Regions from separate parts of the Homo sapiens genome. Here regions 2 and 3 are each linked to region 1. The links come from fine-mapping of genetic effects on gene expression. A gene starts in region 1. Each other region holds a variant in brackets. All regions are shown on one strand. Distances are between the middles of the regions.

Region 1 (8,165 bases):
CGCTCTGTCACCCTGGCTGGAGCACGGTGGCGCAATCTCGGCTCACTGTACTCGGATCCCAGAGAGAACCTCCACCTCCTAGGTTCAAGCGATTCTCCTGCCTCAGCTTCCCGAGTTGCTGGGACTACAGGCACATGCCACCACGCCCGTTTTTTTGTTTGTTTGTTTGTTTTTGTATTTTTAGTAGAGATGGGGTTTCACCGTGTTAGCCAGGATAGTTTCGATCTCCTGACCTCATGATCCACCCGCCTCAGCCTCCCAAAGTGCTGGGATTACAGGCATGAGCCATCGCGCCTGGCCGTATCTCAGCATTTTGATTTAAAATTTTTAATTTATATCCTCCTTTTACCCCAATCTTTATCTAATACTTAAATCCATCTAAATATTCTAATACTCTTTCATCTATTTACTATCATGAACTACCTTTCCTCTCTTCCTTTGCTACCAAAAATAAAAAACCATCTCTCTATATAAAACACCAATAAGATATCCTGGTTCACATGCTCATAATCATCTCTGAGTCCTCCCTTACCCAACAATGCCTGTTAAGTCTTCCTTTACTATGCATCTCACATTTATCTTCCCTTCCCTTTCATTCATACTTCATTCCAGAACTCTTGCAAATGCTTCTTCATCTTTCTTCCTTTAATTTGTTTTGCTCATCCCTTCCTAAATCACAGCTTTCATGTTATCCCTCTTTAGCTCACCCTCCCAGCCCTTATCAACAATGCACCACACACACTGCCTGTAAGATAAACTCCAGATGTCTGGTTTCACATTCAGATCTTTGGCCACCAAACTATCTTTTCAGGTTCATCCTTTAACTACCCCAAAAACAATCAAGACAAGGCCATGGCTATATTCTCTAACCACTGAGAAATCACTTTCAAATTCCAGCTCCCATGCAACACCATCCCTCACAAGTCTATCCTGAAATGGCCACTCTCCTCAGCATTTCTGTACATATAACTAAGTATCAACTATATACTGTACATATAACTAAGTATCAACCTCTTCAAAGTGAGATATCTAGTGTTATACACATGCTTGTCTTTGCAACTGGACTACTGATTGATTAACGAGAGGACTATATATTATATACTTGGGTTTACTCCTCTGAATCCAAACAACATTAAGCTCCAAGGACACACTTATTAAATAAAGAATGATCTACTAATGCTTACATAAAGTAAGTGAACCTAAACCAGTCATGTATTAATAAAATGTTTCAGTGATCACATCCCTGACAATGGAAAGTTTATTTTGATGTATAAACTGCCAGGAAAGGGAGTATACATATTAAAATATAGTTAATACAGAATTATTAAAGTGACTGATAATCCCCTGCAATAGAGTAGGAGTGGCGTGGGGGAGGTGACAGCACTGAGCTACATCCGTCTCTGAAATGACCCTGGTCCAGTCCATTAAGGATCCTGAAGATCAGCATTCACTAGTTCCTAGTGGACATAAAAATTTTCTTAAGTAATATAAATAATTCACACCTTCTCTCCCTTCTGCAAAAAATCTGGGATGGTTGAGAAACGTCTACAAGTGAAAACACTCTAAGAAAAGAGAAGCTAAAGAGTAGTTGTAGTTCAAGTCAGCAGAAAAAGAAAATGAGATAATATAAGTACTTTCTTAAAACTTCTGGGGTGTAAAACAGGAACACTTCATTTGTTCAATCATTTATTATGAAAACATGAGAAGAAGACAAAAAAAACCAAAAAAAAATAGGATCATCACTGCCTCAACACCTATCTAATGGACACCCACTGGCCACCCCACCACAGATGCAGGGCCCAGGCTTCCATCCACTCACCCCTAGCATGGAGAAGTTTACTTTTGCAATATAACTTGTGAAGTAATTTTGGCACAAGACACTAAATGGGAATGTATGACTCCAAATTCACTTAGCAGATTAACACTGAAATCAAATGGAAAAGGGCCACTGTCTGATCTGCTGGGAATGAAAGACCCTCTCTTGAAGCAATAAAAATCCACCAGGCTGGTTAATACATCCAGTTGTTGAAGCTAAATTTCTGACAAAGACAAACAACAATGAGCTCTTACACAAAGCCCAATAAACTTTCAATTTCCGTCCACTATAGTTGTTGTAAGCTGGAAGGCAGGCCAAGTCTAGCTATCTTTGTAAAGGGTTAAAAAGAATGAATTCGGGCAGGGCAGTGGCTCACATCTGCAATCCCAGCTACTGGGAAGCCTGAGGCATAAGAATTGCTTGAACCTGGGAGGCAGAGGTTGCAATGAACCGAGCTCACGCCATTGCACTCCAGCCTCGGTGACAGAGTGAGACTCTGTCTCAAAAAAAAAAAAAAGAATGAATTTAATGAATTAACTGGTCTAGTGACATCCTAATAACACAGACTATCCATATTTATATTTACTAGCTTCTGAACTAAATGATGATAAGTTATTGCTTGACCTGGTGAGTGTGGCCTCTTAGCAGTCAGTGAAAGTTTAAACGAAGGACATACAGCAGCAGGTTGCTCTTCATTAATTAATTTATTTATTTTCCCCCCAGAAAGACCTCCACTGATAGTACTGTGGAATATTGGGTTGGACGGATTTAAAGTAGAACGTGGGAGACCAGACAGAAGTCTACAGCAAAAGGCCAGGCAAAAACTTGATGAGAGCCTAGAATACAGAAGTGGCAAAAAAGAAAACTTCAAATGTCACAGTACAAATCCTATTGTTCACTATCCTGGGTCCCATCCCAGGCAACGTGCATGTAAGATTTTACCTAATACAGGGGTTCTGACAACATTATGCTTGTCAGGTTTTCTTAAGACAACAAAATGGACTTGCATTCGGGGAGCACACACTGACAAACAAATCTGTCCTTTCAGACTATATATATTCCCAGCTTCTGGACACAGAACACAGTGATCCCTCAATTAGTGGATACTTGTGATATGAAAGAACTGAGGATTTGGGAGGAATGCAGAGGAGTAACATTGGTCACTGGCAGGTAAGTGTGAAGGGACGACTCACCACGTCAAGCAAGCAGTCACCCTGCCCAATGCCTGCTCCAGAACCTTAGGAAAAAGGCAGAGGTGCGGCGTGGCTTCCATTTCTCTCCAGAATCCAGTAAACTAGACTAGCCTTTGAGTAAAATCAACTGAAAGGGACGACAGATGCAAACTACCTATGAGATGCTAAGTGGTATTTGCAGCCAAAAGAAAATGAATACACTTTCCCTGTATTCCCAGCAAACGTGGAAATCCGCAAACCACTCATGACCCCCTCCCTAGCACTAAGTGAGTACTTAACAAACACCTTTGGAAAAGAACCCCGCCCTCTTCTGGAGAAGCCGCAGCCTTTCCGCCCAGAGCCGGGTCCCCCGCCACACAGCACCCCTGGAGTGCGTCCCACCCCGAACGCCCCGGCGCGCTGACCCAGCGGGACACCTCCCTGGTGCGCGCAAGTCTCCCAAACTTCCTCCCGCCGCCCCGGCCCGGGTCCACGCAAGGAGGGTGGCATTCCCTCCCGACAGCAAGGCGGGTGGGGCGGGCCGCCGGGACTCTGCGGGGTGGCGGTAGACGTCCCAAGGTCACCACCCGAGCCCGAACCGCCTCGGAGAGCGGTCTCGTGACTCCAGCGCCCAGCAGCCTCGGCCCTCGGGGCTAGCCCTGCGGCGCGGGGTGGGGGAGCCCGTCCCGGACAGGGAGAAAGGTGGGAGCCCAGGACCCCGCGGCGCGTGGGGCTGCGTCAGAGCAGGTGTCGGGCTAGGAAGGCCACCTGCGCCCCAAGAGACCCGGGAGCGGCTTAAGTTTGTCCTCACCCGCCCGCCGCCCCCTGCCCATGCAGGGGTACCTGCTCCCCGCCTCCAAGAAGAGGGTCGGCGCTTCCCTGAGGTGGATACGCCTGAGGAAGGGGGCGGGGCGCCCCTAACGCACCCAGGGCCCGCTCAGCCCGCCGCCCCGCGGCTCGGCCCTCTCTTCAGGAACCCCGACGTGTCAGGGAAGGAGGAGGCGTTCTTACCTCCGGGAGACCCTGGCCCTCCGGCCCCCTGGGCAACCCCATGATCCGACCGGGCTGTCGTAAGGCGAGAGCGAAGCCCGCCAAGCGTCCGGAGGAAGCTGTCCCTGCCGCGGAGCTGCTACCGGGGTGGAGTACAAAGCGGAAACTCCCTCTGCCGCCGCCGCCGCCGCCGCCGCCGCCTGCCCGAAGCGCCGCAGCCGGGCAGAGCATGCGCGCTGGGGCCGGAGCGCGGCGCCACTGCGCCTGCGCCACAGCAGCCCGGGGAGAGGTGGGCTGGGCTGCAGGTCCTGGCGTTGTGCTGGATCATCGCGCCCGTACTCTGAAGTTTTCTCCGTGGCGCTCTTTGAGAGGGGTTCCTCCTGCATCTTGAGAATATTTTGCATTTCGGCTCCCTTCTCTTCTCGCTGCCATCGGATGCCCCAAATAGGTCCTGTCCCCTCGGTGAATCAGACTTCGGAAACCGCCTCGCTTCAGGGTCAGAGTCCAAGTACAGATGAGCTTGAGGATTCTGAATGCACGCCCGGCTCTAGACCTTACAGACACACGCTTGGACAGACTTCTCCATATACGACCCAGGAACGGACCCCTTGAGAAGGGATTCTTCAAGCCCGCTGCCCTCTCCAGCGTCCTGGCCAGTGGCATCGCGTTCCCAGGAAACCTCGCTTCAGATATTGCCCACCACCCCGCCCTATTCACGGTTCCTGGGTCTTCCTGGAGGAATGACATCTCAGAGAATGCGGACTCCTATGTTCATGTCATTTGAGCCGCCGCGTCCCTTATTTGATGTACCCCTTGTTGGTCCCGGAGGATGGCAACTAGACAAAAGGTCACAGGCCCCCACACCCGCTCCATAACGGCTTCTTGGCTTTTTGTTTCTTTTAAGCAATGAGGAAAGAGATGACTTTCGTGAAAACTTTTGCTGGAGAAGAGATCCTTCCCTCTGTATATGTGTGTGGGATGGGAAGTGTCAGACTCAGACCTTTAGTTCCTTGAGATCAAAAAGGTTTCGTGTTTGCTTTCGTCTCTTCTTTGCATCCCTAGCGTCTTTAAAAGAGTAGGCAGGCGCGGTGGCACATGCCTGTAATCCCAGCACTTTGGGGGTCGAGGCGGGAGTATCACTTGAACCTAGGAGTTGGAGACCAACCTGGGCAACATAGTGAGACCTCCATCTCTACAAAAAATAAGAAAATTAGCCCGGTGCCAGTGGTCCCAGCTAGCCGGTAGGCTGAGGTGGGAGAATTGCTTGAGCCAGGAAGGTTGAGGTTGCAGTGAGCTATGATAACACCACTGCACTCCTGCTTGGGTGACAGAGCAAGACCCTGTCTAAAAACTATATATATATACGTGTATATATATATATGTGTGTATATATATATACGTGTATATATGTGTGTATATATATACGTGTATATATATATGATGTTTTCTATTTTATTTTATTTTTGCACCTTTTGTACTCCTCCTGGAGTTCATCCTGACAGACAGAGGTTTGTCTGGAGCCAGAGCTCACAAATAGTTGGAACTGCCCTAAGGATGCCATTTTGTTCTTAAATATAACTAGCAAATATTACTCAAAGCTGTGCACGATCCCCAAACCCTGGTCCCCAATAATTTGAATAATCTGAATATGCAAGTTAAGGTATTGAGATGGGAACCCTCCTGTGTGGTATATCTTGCTCTTATCCTTTGTGAAGCCAATAAACTTCAATTTCTACTCTCATAACTTCCCAAATGTGTTGTTTTTGTAGTTTTAAAACTGTCATTCACTGAAATGGTATAGGTTGATGGGGAATGGAGAGTGATAATAATTTGTGGCCACTGTTGAGTGACCAGACAGGTACTGATGCCTAGGAACAGGTAGTAAGATCTCACATAGCAGGCAAGCCTAAACAGCTGTATATAATAGCAGCCTGGAGAATAACAGGACTCAGGCCACACCCTGAGTTCCCTGTTATAATGCTTTTGCAATGTTTTAAATAAGCATGAGTAGCTAACTTCCTCAGTAAGAAACTGTCCTTCCCGAGCGCGGTGGCTCATGTCTGTAATCCCAGCACTTTGAGAGGCCGAGGCGGGTGGATCACCTGAGATTGGGAGTTCGAGACCAGCCTGACCAACATGGAGAAATGCCGTCTCTACTAAAAATACAAAATTAGCCGGGCGTGGCAGCGCATGCCTGTAATCCCAGCTACTTGGTAGGCTGAGGCAGGAGAATCACTTGAACTGGGAAGGCGGAGGTTGCGGTGAGCTGAGATTGTGCCACTGCACTCCAGCCTGGGCAACAAGAGTGAAACTCTGTCTAAAAAAAAAAAAAGAAACTGTCCTATGTTACAACAGGTGTAGAGTGACAGTAACAGAGTTGAGGGGCATGGGGCATGCTTAAAAAAAAAAATCTCAGCAAAACAGCCATAATATCGTCAAGAAAGTTTGAACAGGGCTAGGTGGCACCTGCTTATGTCCCAGCAACTCGGGAGGCTGAGGCAGGAAAATCGCTTGAGCCCAGGAGTTCTGGGCTTTAGTAAGCTATGCCAATCAGAGATCTGCACTAAGTTTGGTATCAATACAGTGACCTCCAGGGAGCAAGGTTGCCTAAGGAGTGGTGAACTGGCCCAGGTCAGAAACAGAGCAGGTTAAAACTTCTGTGCTGATCAGTAGTGGGATCATGACCATGAATAGCCACTGCACTTAAGCCTGGGCAATATAGCAAGACACTGTCTCTTAAAAAAGAAAAAGAAAGTTTAAGCAGCCCATATTTGAGAGCAGAAACCCTTCACAGTCTTGAAGAAGACCTTTAACAGCCAATGCAGACAAGGAGGCTTGTGAGGAATCTCTCAGATCAATCCATCTCTCTCCCTTTCCCTTCACTCCAGGCACCCTCACAAATTGTGTCTCCCAAGTGTGATATCTGAGGACTAGAAATCAGTCATTCTGTCTCTCTTCTGTACACTGAGTACAGAGTTGTGTGATGTTCCTCTTTGGAGCCTCACAAATACTTTCCAGTTCGTGGGTAAAGAGGTACCATAGTGATATAGTTTGGATATTTGTCCCACCCAGATCTCATGTCAAAATGTAATAGCCAGTGTTGGAGGTGGGGCCTGGTGGGAGGTGATTGGCTCGTTGGGGTGGATTTTTTGTGAATGGTTTAGCAACATCCTCTTGGTGCTGTCTTCCTGACACTGAGTCACTCATCACGAGATCTGGCTGTTTAAAAGTGTGGCACTTATCCTCTCTAGCTCTTGCTTTCACCATGTGACATGCCTGCTCTCCTTTCACCTTCCACCATGATTGTAATCTTCCTAAAGCCTCCCCAGAAGCCAAGCAGATGCCGGCGCCATGCTTTCTGTAAAGCCTGTAGAACTGTGAGTTAATTAAACCTCTTCTTTATAAATTACCCAGTCTCAGGTATTTCTTTATAGCAATGGGAGAATGGCCTAATACACATAGTAAAGAGCTTCCTGTTAGGCTTAGCTTTGTTCTGGAGGAAGTTTTCTTTCTTTTTTTTCTTTTTTTTTTTTTTTGAGACGGAGTCTCGCTCTGTCACCCAGGCTGGAGTGCAGTGGTGCGATCTCGGCTCACTGCAAGCTCCGCCTCCCGGGTTCACGCCATTCTCCTGCCTCAGCCTCCCGAGTAGCTGGGACTACAGGCGCCCGCCACCACGCCCGGCTAATTTTTTGTATTTCTACTAGAGGCGGGGTTTCACTGTGTTAGCCAGGATGGTCTCGATCTCCTGACCTCGTGATCCGCCCACCTCGGCCTTCCAAAGTGCTAGGATTCCAGGCGTGAGCCACCGCTCCCAGCCGGAAGTTTTCTATAAAGCTTTAATTATTCTGTCTTCAGGCTTCTCTCATTCCTTCTACATGTAGTGCAACAATGGGTGTTCAGTAAAGTAGAGTGACACAGCGAGGTCACACAGCACATTAGAGGGAGTGCTAGAACCAGAGCCCCAAATTTCTCATTCCCCATGTTCTTTTGCTCACCCATCCAACCATCCATCCATCCATCCATCCATCCAACAAATATTGCTGAGTTTCTTCTATGTCAGTAGCTCTCAAACTTGGCTGCACATTGGAATCACCTGGATTCCACCCTTAGCAATCCTGATTTAATTGGGCTAGGGAGAGGCATGAATATTGAATTTTTTGCCTTGGAACATATTGTTTTATATACAA
Region 2 (8,186 bases), 150 kb before region 1:
TCCTTCCACGGCTGTGCTGCCCCGCCGGCCTCGGGAACGTGGCGGCCATCGCCCTGGGCCGCGACGGGGCCATCACACGGCACCTGCAGCACACGCTGCGCACCCGCAGCCGCGCCTCGTTGCTCATGATCGCGCTCGCCCGGGTGCCGTCGGCGCTCATCGCCCTCGCGCCGCTGCTCTTTGGCCGGGGCGAGGTGTGCGACGCTCGGCTCCAGCGCTGCCAGGTGAGCCGGGAACCCTCCTATGCCGCCTTCTCCACCCGCGGCGCCTTCCACCTGCCGCTTGGCGTGGTGCCGTTTGTCTACCGGAAGATCTACGAGGCGGCCAAGTTTCGTTTCGGCCGCCGCCGGAGAGCTGTGCTGCCGTTGCCGGCCACCATGCAGGTGAGGGGTGGGCTGAGGAACGTTGCTATGGGGAAGCGGTTGCTAGAGAAGGAGGCAGCTTCGCGAATGGGAGAGTGGGCGGAAGCTTGTACTAATGGAGCGCGCGCCCAGAGATCACCTGGGGCGCACGAGGACAAGTTTGCCATCAGTTCTTCTGAAGCGGGCACCGAGGGGCTTGTCACCGGCTCACCTGGCACGCAAGTGAGGGGTTCGCCAGCTGCGTACTTGGTGCGCGCAGAGGAAAGGGTTTCACAATCTGCACGTTAGGGAGGCAGATCTGACACCGACCCACGACGCACGATATGGCCGGAGGGGCTTGTAGGTTCAGCCCGTCTCAGTAGCGATGAGGGCACATCTTGTTACCTGCACTATCTGTTGTTTTCCCCCTCAAGGGCCCCTGTCCATGTGAGTCCTGGAGCCGCCGGCTTCCTTGTCCCAACTAGACCTAGAGGGGATGCAGTGGACTGGGAATTCGTCTTTCAGAAATTCCTGTGACCAATCACGCCTTATTTTCTGTCTCCACCGTACCCCAGTCTATCCTCTGCAGTTCAGAGACTATTCCCCAACTCCATTAGCCAGCACCCTGCCAAGGGGAATAGTGAGGATTTTAAAATATAATAATTGGTGTCACTTTGCTTTCCTTATCTCAACCCCGGAGCTATCCTCTAGTGATTTAGGAAAGAGAACCATGGATTCAAATCCCAGCTTGGGACATTAGGACAGTTGCTTAATATCTGTGGGTCTCATTTCTTCATCTTTAAACATGTTCATTCGTAATTGATAGGGCTCTTGGTGAGGATTACGTGAGATGAAGAATGTAAAGCACCTGGCATAGTGGCTGGCACACACTGGGTGGCAGACTGGCTGGAGAAAGAAGGGGTTCAACAGGATATTGCCTGGCAGTCCATAAGGAGGAGGAAGATAATGCTGGAAATGTAATGAGATGAGCAAAATTGCAGTCGGCAGATCTTCTCTCACCGTATTTATTATTCTGTCTGAAGCTTTCTGCCTTTTGGCCAGGATCTAATAGGTGCTCAGCATCCTTCTCACTCTGGAAGCCTCAACTTTCTCTTTTGAGGGTATCAGGTGTTTCAAGTAACATGCTCCCGGTCCTATAGATTAACAGGATTTATTGCCCTTTGCAAATACAATACATGGGTGAGGGAAGAGGTGCATATGAGAGCAAAAAGAGACAAGGAAAGTTTTTTGTTGCTAGTTTTGTTTTAATTTTGGAAAATTAACTCAGATACTTAGAATACAGGACAAATACATGTGATTTTTAAAGTAGGCCTTTTTTCTTCTACATTAAATGGCAGAGGAATTTTGCAGCATAAAATAGGAATGTCAAGACTATAACTGGAAGTGTTGGTGAGGGAGAGTTTTATTCAGAATTAATGATGTTCTTTGAAAGGTCCCTTGGAAATGCCTGGGGTGATTATAGCTTTTCTGTCTGATTGCCGAGCTAGGGCTGACTTTTAATAGCTACGTCAATCCAATGCGCACTTAGAGAAATCACGGTGAAATGGATGCCGGAAAACCTTGCCAAGCCTGATTTTAGTGTTCATTTTTGACAGTTCCCATTCAGGCAGGTGACACAGGGAAGAGGTGCCTGGATGAGAGGCTGGCCAATCTGGAGTGTCCATTGGTGGATAGAGAGAGCTCTGAGAGGAAGAGGAACTGTTAAAAATTTAGCCACTCCCGGCAGGAGGACCTGGGGCAAGCCCTTCCCCACTTTGGGCCTCAACTTCTCTAACATACAGTATTCTTCTAAGTCATGTCTAAGGGCCTTGAATCACAGGATGCTGAGATTGTAGATGGGGTAGTGTTCAGGAGCATGCTGCTTCTATGGGTCACAGCAAGCCCTCACTCAAACTTCTGGGTAATGTTCCTGAGTCCACGTTTGCAAGCCTTCTGGAAACAAGACATCTAAACAAAAGTGTAAAACACCGCGCCAGGAATACTTCCTCTCTACTTTCCCCCACCTGCATCATTCTACTCTCCAGGCGAAATGAGTTGTATTGTGTTTAGGCTCTGCAAAGTGTCTGTACTGTTTTCTGCAGGGAACAGGAGCCTATGTGAAGCCTGAAGGCCTCTGTTGATGAGGCTGTGTAAGACCTTCATCTTTTTCAGAATTCCGTGTCTAGGTCCCAACACTAACATATTATAAGACAGGGGTCTTATCAGAATGTAGTTTTTGGGCAATGATTAATCCTTTGGGGCAAAATGCAGTTTTTCAAAGTTGAGAAGGGAAAAAAATGTTTATTGAGTGAATTGTCTCTTCCAGACACATTTCTGATGCTTTACATTCACCCTTTCATTTCATTCTCACAATTCAGTAAAGTTGGCATTAAGTCTCTATTAGTCAGGATAAGCTAAGGCATGCTGTGGTAACATGTAACCCCAAACCAGAAGTTTATTTCACTCTGACTTAAAGTTCAATGTGGGTCTGCATACCTGCACAGCTCTCTTCCAGGCAGTCTCTCATGATTTTGGGCCATTTATCATTTTTAGCTATGCTGCCTTGCACATGTGCCTTCCAGATTTATTGTGGGAGAAGAGCTATGTATGGAGATATGCCAGCTTTTTACTGCCTTACCCTGAACTGGAAGCATGTCATCACTATTTGCAGCCCATTGGCCAGCCATTGGCAGTGAATTGGAAGGGAGCATGTAGCTATCTGGTGAGCACTGTCTTTGCCATAAGGCCCTCATTTTACAGATGAGAAAACTGCAAGAGAAAACTATGGTAAGGCACCACAAACCTAGTTCATCCAAAACCACGCAGTTCCTGGGTAGAGAGTCTGAAGGTTGTACCAGATCTAAGAATCACTATTTTTGGCCAGGTGCGGTGGCTCATGCCTGTAATCCCAGCACTTTGAGAGGCGGAGGCAGGCGGATCACGAGGTCAAGAAATCGAGACCATCCTGGCCAACATGGTGAAACCCCATCTCTACTAAAAATACAAAAATTAGCTGGGTGTGGTGGCACATGCCTGTAGTCCCAGCTACTCTGGAGGCTGAGGCAGGAGAATTGCTTGAACCCAGGAGGTGGAGGTTACGGTGATGCGAGATCGTGCCACTGCATTCCAGCCTGATGACAGAGCGAGACTCCGACTCAAAAAAGAAAAAAGAAATCACTGTTTTCATTACTCCATGCCATCTCCAGGGACTTGACTTCTGAGGCCTGCCCCTCTGCTCATGGGTGTCTCTGCTTGAGAGGAATGAGGCAGTCACAGCC[C/G]AGTCAAGGTGGGTCCCACGAAGCAGGATCTCAAAACTACTCAGGTGAACTCTCCTTTTCAGGAGAGCTGAACACAATTGAGCACAAAAGCCTTGCCTGCTTCCCTCAGGGGACAGGTTTAATTCCTGCCCTGGTGTCTTTTCTTTCAACATCTTAAACTGAGACTCTGAGCATCCCATGTACACTATAATCTGCTCCCCACCCCAAAGCAAGCCCCATGGGTTACGATTACTTCCTACTGCCCTGTGCCCTTCACTGTTTAGAAAAGAAGAAACATTATTTCTTTGGCTTTTAAAATGTGACATTAAAAGGGTTTTTTTTTTTTTTCCTATCTCTCTCTCTTTTCTTTGCTATTGCTTGTTTGATTTCTGTGTGCAATTTGATGCTGGGACCTAGTTATCCATCAGGCGTAGTAGTCATACTACTTAGAACCAGAATTCTTTTAGGGACCCATAGAAATATTTTAATTTTAATTTCTTTTAAAATTAGAGGAAAAATGAATATAACACTAATGAATATATTATAATGAATCCAGTCTTGCTTATACTTGCTTATACTAATGTTTAACATAATTTTCAGTATTTCTTAATGAAGGAAGGGATACATTAAGGCAAAGATGTCTAGGGACCACACAAATTATAATGAAGCCTTGGTTAATATCTTGCCCTCATTCTTTTTTTTAATCGTACTATTGCTTTCTTTTTAAAATTTTTAAATATATTTTTTAATAGCTTTGGGGCTACAAGTGGTTTTTGTTTACATGGATGAATTATATAGTGGTTAATTCTGAGACTTTAGTGCAATTGTCACCAGACTAGTGTCCCCTTCTAAGTCTCCAAAGTCCATTATATCACTCTGTGTGCCTTCCCATATATTCATAGCTTAGCTCCCACTTATAAGTGAGAACACATGGTATTTGGTTTTCCATTCCTGAGTTACTTCTCTCAGAATAATGGCCTCTAGCTTCATCCAAGTTGCTGCCAAAGACATTATTTTATTCCTTCTTATGGCCAAGTAGTATTCCATTATGTATATATACCACATTTTCTTTATCTACTCATTCGTCAATGGGCACTTAGGTTGGTTCCAAATCTTGGCAATTGTGAATTGGGTTCTTGCACTCATTCTTAATAAATATATATTGGGAGATAATGTACACAGTGGTTAAGAACATGGGACTTGGAAACAAAGAAACGTGGGTTTCAATTTTTTTGACTGCCACTTATTAGCACTTCAGCCAAGTGACTTAATCTACATCTGCAATTCTGCATATGTAAAATGGAAATATTACCACGTGTCTTTTAATATTCTTGTGAAGAGCAAATGAAATTCTATCATATGTGGAGTCCCTTAAGTAGTAAACCATAAATAATAGCTACCGCATTACTTTTGTTATTTTTCTATTTCTCTTTAATAAGAAAAGTATTATTTTATTTCTCTTATTGCTATTCCTCATAATCATAGGTAGATTATTTATTGCTTGTGTAGAAAATTATCCCACAGTTTAGTGGCTTAAAAGAACAAACATGTATTAATTCACAGTTTCTGTGGGTTGGGCATTCAGAATGGCTTAGCTGGGTGGTTCTGACTTGACATCTCTTTTGGCTGTAGGCAAGATGTTGCATGGGGCTGCAGTCATTCAAAAGCTTGACTGAGGCTGGAAACTTTGCTTCCAAGATGGAGCACTCACATGCCTGTTGACAAGAGGCTTCAGATCCTTGAGAAAAGGACATCTCCAAAGGGCTGCTTGGGTGGTACCACATGATAGCTGACTTTCCCCAGAGCAAGCCGTCCAAGAGAGTGAAGCAAGGAGGAAATTGCAGTGCCTTTTATGACTTAGTCTCAGAAGTCACATATGATTATTTTCTATTCATTAGCAGTGAGTCACTAAGTCCAGCTCACACTCAAGAAAAGAGGAATTAGGCTTCATCTTCGGGAGAAGTATTTCCCAAAACATATTGAATGTAGTGTTCAAAATTACTCGATTGACTTACTGATCTTATGTACCAGGCAATGTCCTCTGAGGTTTCAAAGAATGAATAAGCACTTTCCTGCTCCCAGTGGATTTTTAGTAGATTATAATTATAGAATTATAAATGCAATAAAGTCTTATAAGTGCTCTGCTAGAAATCTGTCCAAAGTACAATGGTATCTGAAAGATTTAATAGTGTATGGGAAAGCACTATGTAAACTGTGAAGGGCAAAGTAAATGTGAGGTATTGAGCTTTAGGGTTTATGGCAACTTGGAACATAGATTTTAGATTATGCTGTATTACAAAAATTTGACTTTCTAAGCCAGTCCTCTTTGTTGACGTTTTGTTTGAACAATGACACACTGCCATAAAGGTTATGTGCAGTAGGCCCCAAGTGACCCAAAATCTGTACAGAGCCATTTATGTTTATATATTTATTTTAAATTGACAAATAATAATTGTATATACTTATGGGATACAATCTAATTTTTAAAAATTTTGTATTTTTAATTTTTGTGGGTATACAGTAGATTTATATTTTTATAGGGCACATGAGATATTTTGATACAGGCATGCAATGTATAATAATCACATCAAGGTAAATGGGCTATCCATCACTTCAAACATTTATCCTTTTTTATGTTACAAACAATCCAGGCCAGGTGTGGTGGCTCACGCCTGTAATCCCAGCACTTTGGGAGGCCGAGGTGGCCGGATCACGAGGTCAAGAGATTGAGACCATCCTGGTCAACATGGTAAAACCCCATCTCTACTAAAAATACAAAAATTAGCTGGGTGTGGTGATGGGCGCCTATAGTTCCAGCTACTTGGGAGGCTGAGGCAGGATAATTGCTTGAACCTGGGAAGGCAGAGGTTGCAGTGAGCTGAGATTGTGCCACTGCACTCCAGCCTGGCAACAGAGTGAGACTCTGTCTCAAAAAAAAAAATACAATTATACTATTTTAGTTATTTTTAAATGTACAATAAATTATGTTTGACTATATTCACCCTATTGTACTATCAAATACTAGATCATATTCATTCTATCTAACTGTATTTTTGTACCCATGAACCCTTCCCTCTTACCCCCTCCCACTACCCTTCCTAGCTTCTGGTAACTATCATTCAACTCTCTATCTCCATGAGTTCAACTGTTTAAATTTTTAGCTCCCACAAATAAGTGAGAACATGTGAAGTGTGTCTTTCTGTGCCTGGTTTATTTCACTTAACATAATGACTTCCTGTCCCATCCATGCTGTTATGATGGGATATCATTGTTTATATGTATGTACCACATTTTCTTTATCCTTCATCTATGAATGGCCACTTAGGTTGTTTCCAAATCTTGGCTATTGTGACTAGCACTGCAGTAAACATGGGAGTGCAGATATCTCTTCTATATACTGATTTCCTCTCTTTTAGATACACAGCTGGCAGTGAGATTGCTGAGTGATATGGCAGCTCTATTTTTAGTGTTTTGAAGACCCTTCAAACAGTTCTCCATGGTGTCTGTACTAAGTTACATTCTCACCAACAGTGTACAAGGGTGCCCTTTTCTCCACTTCGTCACCAGCACTTGTAATTACCTATCTTTTGGATACAAGCCATCTTAACTAGGGTGAAATGATATCTTATTGTAGTTTTGATTTGCATTTCTCTGATGAGCAGTGATGTTGAGCACATTTTAGTACACCTGTTTGCTATTTGTCTTTTTTTGAGAAGTGTCTATTCAAATCTTTTACTCACTTTTTAATCAAATTATTTGATTTTTTCATATAGAATTATTTGAATCCCTTATATATTCTGGTTATTGAATCCCTTATATATTCTGGTTATTAATCCCTTGACAGATGGATGGTTCACAAATATTTTCTTCCATTCTATGGGTTGTCTCTTTGTTGATTGTTTCCTTTGCTGTGCAGAATCTTTTTAACTTGATGTGATCCTACTTGTCCATTTTTGCTTTGGTTGCCTGTACTTGTGGGGTATTACTTAAGAAACCTTTGCCAAATCCAGTGTTCTAAAGAGCTTCCCCAATATTTTCTTGTAGGAGTTTCATAGTTTGAGGTCTTAGATTTAAGTCTTTAATCCATGTTTAATTGATTTTTACATGTGACAAGAAGCAGGTGTCTAGTTTCATTCTTCTGCATACAGATATTCAGTTTTCCTAGCACCATTTATTGAAGAGACTGTCCTTTCCCCAGTGTATGTTCTTTGAACCTTTGTCAAAAATGAGTTTGCTGTAGATGTATGGATTTTTTTCTGGGTTCTCTATTTTGTTCTATTGGTCTTTGTGTCTGTTTTATGACAGTTCCATGCTGTTTGGGTTACTATAGCTTTGTAGCACAGTTTGAAGTCCGGTAATATAATTCCTCCAGTTTTGTTGTTTTTGCTTAGGACAGCTTAGGCTACTCTGGGTCTTTTGTGTTTTTATATAAATTTTAGGATTGTTTTTTCTATTTCTGTGAAGAATGTTATTGGTATTTTCATAGGGCTTGCATTGAATCTGTAGATTGCTTTAGGTAGTGTGAACATTTTAATAAGATTTATTCTTCCAATCAATGAACATGGAATACCTTTCCACTATATTGTAT
Region 3 (8,186 bases), 62 kb after region 1:
TCTTTTTCCTCAAAAGAATCTTTAGATATCAGGCAAAAGATTTTAAAAGCATTTTACAGTGTGAATCAATATCTCTTTAATTTTTCCACATGCAAAAACTTCATCTTCTCACTAATATTGTGACCCAAGGAAAAGATTGTCTTAGATTTCTTTGCCTTCCTACTGTGGCAACCTAGCTCTGAATAGAAATCAGCTAAAAAAAAGTGGTTATCTGAATGACCAATCTCTATATATAAAGATACCTTTTAAAAATAAATGTTTGGGCCAGGTGTGATGGCTCACACCTGTAATCCCAGCACTTTGAGAGGCTGAGGCGGGTAGATCACTGGAGGTCAGGAGTTCATGATCAGCCTGACCAACATGGCGAAACCCTGTCTCTACCAAAAATACAAAAATTAGCCAGGCGTGGTGGCACATGCCTGTAATCTCAGCTACTCGGGAGACTGAGGCAAGAGAAGCACTTGAACCCAGGAGGCGGAGGTTGCAGTGAGCTGAGATCACACCATTGCACAACAGCTTGGGCGACAGAGCGAAACTCCATCTCAAAAAATAAATAATTAAATAAATAATGTTGGGTTTCCATAATTATCTAATGTTTCATGAGAAATGGAAAGGTTTTCCCTAGTATATATGTCTTTTATTTGCCGCAAATCTGTTTTTCTCAACATCTTAGTCGTTGATATGATACAGTCAGCTATTTGGATGGAATTATCTCTCTACTTGCTATTTCTATGTTAGAGTTCCAATCCCTAGGAGTATTTAGACTATTTTTGTCACTACCTTTGCAATTTTAGTTTCATGTTTTGCAACATGAAAAACTTTGGAGACTCTTAAAATTAAGATTAACGCTGAGAATATTAACAGATGTATATACAAAATCTGCTATGAGTCCCCTACCAGGCTGAGAACTCTTCGAAGGCACAAACTGGATTTCTTTCCTTACTATAACCCATATGTAGCACCTTACTGTGTAGATATTTGCCATTTTTTACTCCCCTGCATAGCTGCAGATTTTTTAATAGGCCCTTGAGCCCTCTACACAGTTGACCCTGGAATGACACAGGTTTGAACTATGCCGGTCCACTTATATGCAAATTTTCCTCTCCCTCTGACACTCCTGACACAGTAAGACCAACCCCTTTTCTTTCTCCTCTTCCTCAGCCTCAACAATGTAGGATGAGGAGGATGAAGTCCTTTATAATGATCCACTTCCACTTAATGAATAGTAAATATATTTTCTCTTCTTTGCAATTAATATCATTTTTTTCTCTAGTTTACTTTATTGTAAGAATAAAATATATAATACATATATAAAATATGTGCTAAACAACTGTTTAATGTTATAAGTAAGGCTTCTGGTCAACAGTAAGCTATTGTAATAGTAGTTAAGTTTTGAGAGAATCAAAAGTTATGCATGGATTTTTGACTATGCGGGGAGCTGGTGCCCTTAACCCTGCATTGTGCAATGGTCACCTGCATTTGTTTTTTGTGTGTGGGGAGAGGAAGGCTAATATCTCCTACTGAACCATCTTGGTGATGTCACTGCTCTGTACCTAGCACCATATCTGGCCCACGGCGCTCACTGAATGTACTTGCTAATGTGACTTCTAAGACTCTAGACCTCTCAACAGCCTTATTAGACTGAAATTCTGAATATTCCTTTCCCATCAGGGATGAGCAGTGACAGTACCTGGCTGAGGCCAAGGAGAAAGAGGGCCAGGAATTTCTTCTTACCCTGCTTTTGAGCATGCAAACTCTCCCTTGGGATATAAAGCATGCAAGTGTCTTGTCCCTCAGCTCTGGACACACTTACCTCTAGCCTGTGATTTAGGGATGCAAGAAGATAAGCAGTGGGAAAAGGAATTTCTCTAGTGAGTATGAAAAGAATTAAAGATCAAGAATATATTGCCAGCTCCCTATGTATCCCACCCACCTCAGTCATCAGCCAGACACAGCATGTGAAACAATCCCTCTGCCTCTGCACCTCTAAGCCCTGCCATACATATTCTCTAAAGGGACACCATGTTTGAACACCATGTGTGGCTCCTGGGGTGAGCAAACCCATGACACACATGCTCAGACAATGTCCATGAGCTCCACCAACCTCTAGGAAGAGTGTGGTGATGGACTGTGCTCACATATTATTTGGTGAGTGTGTGGTGAGGGGGTGGTTGGGGATAGCCAGGGCCAAATAGGCTCAGTGTTTCAGGAGAGGCAAGCACAAATACTGGATCCCATTATTTCCTGGAGAGACTGTGAGGACCCCAGAAGAACTTTGGTTTACACAGTGGGGGCAGCTGTTGCCTCAATGCCAATGGTAATTTCTTCAGTGGAGATAGTGAGACAGAGTCCTAATTGTAGAGGGAATTCTCCATCCCTTTCTCAGACTACATAAAAGATACAGTGCCAAAGCCTGCTGGCTGTTATCATTGTGTGACTGCTGGCATGCCTGAACTTGGTATTGTTTTAGCAATTATCTCTCAGAGAAAGGAGGTAACATTTGTTAAGAGAGGAGAACAGATTACCCGGTGGCTTCATTTAGAACAGTCTTCCAGATAATATCAGAAGTAGAGCACGCCTTCTTGCTAGAATATGAAAGAAAAGAAAGCAGCTGAATCAATTGGGAAGCTGAATAACTGAACAACATCCCATATAATTACTGGAGCAGCAAAGAAATGCCTATGTTAGTTATTTGCAACACTTCTTGCTTCAAAAAAAGAGAAGCTTAAAAACATCAATAAAGACAGATGTAAAATCTCTGTTTCAAGACTCCCAGTTGACACTGATAGATTCCTACTGAAAAAAAAGATGTTTCCAAAAAGTAAAATAAAATCTTACTGCAAATATAGTAAAATTGCAAAGGAGGGGAGAAAAGTAGCCTCAGATCTGTGAGAAATGTCAATCTGCAAAGTCCATTATCCAAAGACCTTGTACATCAATACTAGATTTGAATTATGGAGCTGAGTTGCGCCTTCATTTAGACGGTGTTTCCCCAAGTAGCCAGATAATATCAATATCTTGCATTTATATGATGATCATCTTCCCAGATGGCTTCATTAAATTGTATGTTTTATGAGACCCACTTTCTGAAATGTGGTCATCTCTGAATGAGAATGATGCTCCTGGGTAACTTGGGGCAAGGGAAAAATCGTGTTTTGCATTTATGCTGTCTTTCTATCAGTGATCATAAAAATCTTCAGTTAGCAAGCATTTCCTGAGCATCTGCATGGGCAGAGCCCGAGACGAGGCTCTGTGTGGTAACATACAGAAGATTAAAAGGTGTGGTCCCAACCCTCCAATACCTCAGTCTCCATTAAGAACAATTTTTCTGTTTCACAAATGTGAAAACTTGTGGCCAGACAAGTTTAGAGAATTGGAGAAGATGATGTAGTAAATTTGTTCCAGAGATAGGAGCCCTCATTTCTAGGATTGGGTCTACATGGTTTTGAGAATAACATCTAAAAATATTTAAAATATGTCAAACCTGCATTTAAGTGTTAACACTTTGGTTTTTGTTAAGGGAGAAAAGACTAGTTCCCAATTAGGAAAATGAAAAAGGGTCTGTTACGTTGTCAATATGAATTTGTAAATATTTCTAAATATCTAAGTCTTGTGGTAATTGTAGTGGAGGGACAAAAGGAGGGCAGGCTTCCAACTCTGAAGAATTTGGCTGATTTTAGAAGTAAAATCATTGCTGATATGTGGTAATTTCAAAGAAATAAGAAGTCTCCCTTGTGCCTTGAATGAAGATTCACTTTGTTGGCTTATTTCTTCCTACCTTGTAAAATTGCTAGTACTCTAGGAGAAGTCCCACATTCAGCCAACCCAGAAAAATGTCTGGCACACAGCAAACACTCCATGAACAATTATGAGGAATTCACGCTGTGTAGATGAGTTTCTCATA[G/C]CCTTTCCTAAGAACCTAGATTTTAATGGGTTTGGAAGTAGGGTGGGGTGGGGAGAGGTCAGAGGTAATAGGTGCCAAGGAAGGAAAGAAGAAATAAACAAGAGTGAAAAGGATAGCCTAGGGGATGGGGAAAACTTGTCTTTTTAATCTTGTTTAGGGACCATGGTGTGCAATGTACTGTATATCTAGAGATACGGAGATATAAGACTAGTATACTTAAAATACCTGCAAGCTCAGAGATTAGAAATCCCAACTCTAATTCTGATCGATTTGGGATTTGGGGCAAGTCACTTCACTATACCTGGGCTACAGATATTCCATCTGTTAAGGATATAGACTAGATAATCTCTAAGATCAATTTCTGTTACATAGGATTCTGTTATTCTAGCTATATGAGAATATCGGAGCATTTGAAACAGGAAGTAGACGAGTTGTTCTGATGCTTACTTATCTAGATGGAGAGAAGAGACAACATTAAAATCCAAAGGCTAATGATCCTTTCTTAATGTAAGTCTAGTCTACCAATCAAAATATATTGGATTCTATACTGTCAACCATAAAAGACCTCAGCCAACTTCGGATGAATTTGGGTAATGGAAGATTCATCTCTGTTCTAAAATTCTATACTTTTTTTCCTTCTTAAATTAGAATTTTTTTAAAGAAATGTCTAACTTGTGGCTCTATCAGTTGGTAATAAAGCTTTTAAATGTTTACTTAAAAATTAAACGTTATCTCCAAAATATTCTACATTTCAAAAACCTTTCCCACGAAATAAAAATGCTAGATTATGTATTAAAATTACAGGTGCTGCAGGAATTCAGAAAGTAGAAAGATCCTTGTGGTCAATAGGTAACCAAGAAAACCTTCAAAGTAAAAATGAGGTTCAAAGTTGGGCCCTGAGGGAATTTAAGACTGGGATTTTTGGAGAAGGGGGCTTTCCAGATTTAAGAGGATCTTCCAAAGAGCAGGGCTTTCCAAATGCACACAGATGAACTATTCTGCTTGAGGATGAAGTTTTCACTGCTCCATGACTACTAACAAAACTAAAGGGCAATGTAGTCAGTATGTCCAATAACTAAATCAAAGCAATTAAAGGACTACCCCTTATTCTGAGACAGTGTCCTTCCTTGTTTTAGTGTTAAAACATCCTTTTATAAATGATAGTGGTAGTAGATAATAGTTGTTTTCTTCTTATTATTTTTTTAGACGGTGTCTCTCTGTCGCCCAGGCTGGAGGACAGTAGAGTGAAAGTGCAACCTCCGCCTCCCGGATTCAAGCAATTCTCCTGCCTCAGCCTCCCAAGTAGCTGGGATTACAGGCGCCTGCCACCATGCCCAGCTAATTTTTGTATTTTTAGTAAAGATGGGGTTTCACCATGTTGGTCAGGATGCTTTGAACTCTGACCTCAAGTGATCTGCCTGCCTCGGCCTCCCGAAGTGCTAGGAGTACAGGCGTGAGCCAGATGTTTTCATTTTGAAGTGATGGCATCAAATTTGTCTTCCATATGATGGTCTCTCTTGTTCTCTCTTTCTCTTCCTTTGAGATTTTGCTGGCCAATGAAATCTAAAGATCTGTGGACTACCAGGTAGGCGAGTATTTCTAAAATGTTTCCTTCATTGTAGCCTTTATCCATGTACACCAAGAAGTCAAGCACAGCTTTCTAGCAAGAGAAAGAACCATTTAATTTTAGAATTTTGTTTTGCTGTTCTTGTGATACTGTCATGGTAGTAAATGCTGGTCAGGCTTAGCTGTGATGTTGATAGAGTCAAGCTTAATATGCCAGACCTAGGATGTGTTTCAGGCCTTTCGGTGATATAGCATCCTAGAAAACAACATCTGCTCCGTTTTCAACTTTTACTTGGTTTCCAACCTACATTCCACGTTGGCAGCAGATCAGCTGCTAAACTGTTTACCAAAGTCCTTGCTTTGTAGAGATTAAATAAACGATTTCATAATTCTCTCTCATTCCATTGATGTAGAGTGACTAGATCATTAGATTTGCAGTATAAGCATGCCAAGTTTCTTTCTCAGAAGCCAATCTTGGGCATTCAAAGTACTGCTTGCCTCCTGGACACAGGGTATTCCCGCCCCTCTAAGCCACCAGGTATATACTCGTTTCCCTCTGGAGGAAACTATGAGGACACAGTGTTTTAGAACAAAACGTTATGGTCTTCCATTTCCACAGTTGCCCTTCTATCTCCTGGTCTCTTACTAAGGAGTACAGGGGAACTTTTCATTATGGTAATAGGGCTTGTGCTCTGAGAAGAGATAATGAGCTTTCTATATTTTTAATTGGCAAATTGTATATGCGTTTTTATTAGCTCACTATGATCGCTGAGCTGATATGGGGAAAAAAATGGAAACACAAACTCTGATTACATTTATTTCAACCGAGAGATGAAGGAAACAAAGGTCCAGATTGGGTACTAACTGGCTCAAGGTCACCTAGCTAGTTAGCTGAAGTACAAGGACTTGAAGTTGATCTAATGTTCTCTCTCCTACCTCCCTCCAATACCCCATCGGAATTGAAATCATTGCAATAGCCACTGCCAAGTACTTAACAATGGATATTTGATCGTGGTCCTTTAGGTCTGTACCAGGGTGGTTTTCAGTTTTTTACTTCATCAGCACAGGAAGGCAAGGACATCGCACTGACTCTCATATTTCATCCTTAGCTCTCGATTCCCTTGGTTTTACATTTCTGACTCTTCCTTCAGTTTCTTGTAGGGCTTTATGATTTAATTTAATTTCAGCTTATGGCTGGCTTTGGTACCCAGAAGAGTGGTAATTTGTCCTTTAAATTATTCACCCAGGGGAGTCGGTGTTCTTAGAAAACGAGGCGGGGAGAACCTATAAGCTTCATCCCAGCAGAGGGACATATGACACACACTGATGCCTCACTCACTTGTTCTTCTCCCACAATACCTTATCTCCCATGTTCAGCCTTGGTTCCTATAATACCTTGTATTTCTGCAGAGCTTTTCACATTAACAAATAAAGCAATTTACAGCATATTTATACACTGACTAGTGACTAATTATACACCTGCAAGCACTGCAATCATTCCAGACAAGCAACATTCCTCTACATTAGCTTCCCTGTAGGAAGGTGTCTTAGAGCTATTTGCAGAGAGAATTTGGGGCAACAGTCAGTCTCGGCTCTGACACTCAATTGTTGAATGTGGGGGCAGTTATATAATCTAGGATGCACCTCTAGACATTTTAGCTCGGAGCTGAGCTAGGGGCTAGAAAGATTACGAAAGAAAAGAAAGAGTGGATGAATCTGACCCTAGTAGAACTCACTAAAATTGTTGATAAAACCAGGCAAGGCCAGGCACAGTGGCTCACGCATTTAATCCCAGCACTTTGGGAGGCCGAGGCGGGCAGATAATGAGGTCAGGAGATCGAGACCATCCTAGCCAACATGGTGAAATCCCATCTCTACTAATAATACAAAAATTAGCTAGGAGTGGTATCATGTGCCTGTAGTTCTAGCTACTTGGGAGGCCGAGGCAGGAGAATTGCTTGAACCAGGGAGTCAGAGGTTGCAGTGAGCCAAGATTGCACCACTGCACTCCAGCCTGGTGACAGAGCGAGACTCCGTCTAAAACACAAACAAAAAACCAAAAACCAGGCAGAAACATATGCAACAACTCACAAAGAAAACGACATTACAAAATCACCTGCCAGGGTGTTTGGTATGTTTTAGGTGGAACTGAAGCACGGAATGGAGGAGACTATTGCAGTTGTCAATTAAAAAGATAAGAGATGAATATTGGTAAGAGCTACCATTTAATGAGTGCCTACTATGTATTTATATTTCCTCAATACCACTGTCATTTAATCCCCTCATAATCTCCAATTATCACATAAAATTAATTGAAGTTCAAAGATGTAAAATAATGTTCTCAAGATTAAACAGATATTAAGGGAGAGCAGGAATTAAAACCCAGGTCTGTCTGACTCTTAACCACTCCATTATACCCTCTTCAGCCTAAGAAAGGGATGGCAAGCATTAACAAGATGCGAATATCTAGTGTGTAAAAGTGGATTGTACAGAGAGAATAAGAAAAGGATTAGTAGAATCCATTTAAAGGGGTGCTAAGAAAAGAAATTAAATATTTTCAAAGTTTAAGTTTTGGCAATACAGTGGGGTGGAAGCAATGGAGGAGCTCCTAAGAAACTAATATGGGCTCAGAGGATGTTCTCTGATGAATTTAAACAGAAAATAGACAAGTAATCACATTTAAAGATAAAGTAGCAATATAAGCCTGTAAGAATAT

Direction of the effects. Positions count from the first base shown, and alleles are read on the strand shown. Sizes are in standard deviations (SD) of each study's normalised expression. Not every link is listed here.
For the expression in tibial nerve of the gene that starts at base 4,116 in region 1, C is the low allele of the variant in region 2 and G is the other (small effect, 0.14 SD a copy in GTEx).

The links. PIP is the estimated chance that this variant, and not a neighbour inherited with it, causes the effect. A credible set is the group of variants that fine-mapping cannot tell apart.
Region 2: its variant is the best candidate, but not a certain one, in a credible set for the expression of CCDC93 in tibial nerve (GTEx, PIP 0.60).
Region 3: its variant is the best candidate, but not a certain one, in a credible set for the expression of CCDC93 in whole blood (TOPMed, PIP 0.65).

The regions. Positions count from the first base shown.
Region 1 is chr2:118,009,955-118,018,119 of GRCh38, forward strand. It overlaps CCDC93 (CCC complex scaffolding subunit CCDC93), which reads right to left and starts at 4,116. Exons shown (of 24, transcript NM_019044.5): 1 at 4,000-4,116. The coding sequence starts at 4,041. It also overlaps the pseudogene RN7SL111P. RefSeq lists silencers at 3,604-3,653, 4,124-4,323.
Region 2 is chr2:117,859,862-117,868,047 of GRCh38, forward strand. It overlaps the pseudogene HTR5BP. Among named protein-coding and RNA genes, the nearest start is that of DDX18, 49 kb to the left of the region's middle. The variant C/G (reference allele first, on the strand shown) is at 3,620.
Region 3 is chr2:118,071,969-118,080,154 of GRCh38, forward strand. All of the region lies in intron 1 of LOC107985940 (a long non-coding RNA gene), which reads right to left. Among named protein-coding and RNA genes, the nearest start is that of INSIG2, 12 kb to the right of the region's middle. The variant G/C (reference allele first, on the strand shown) is at 3,905.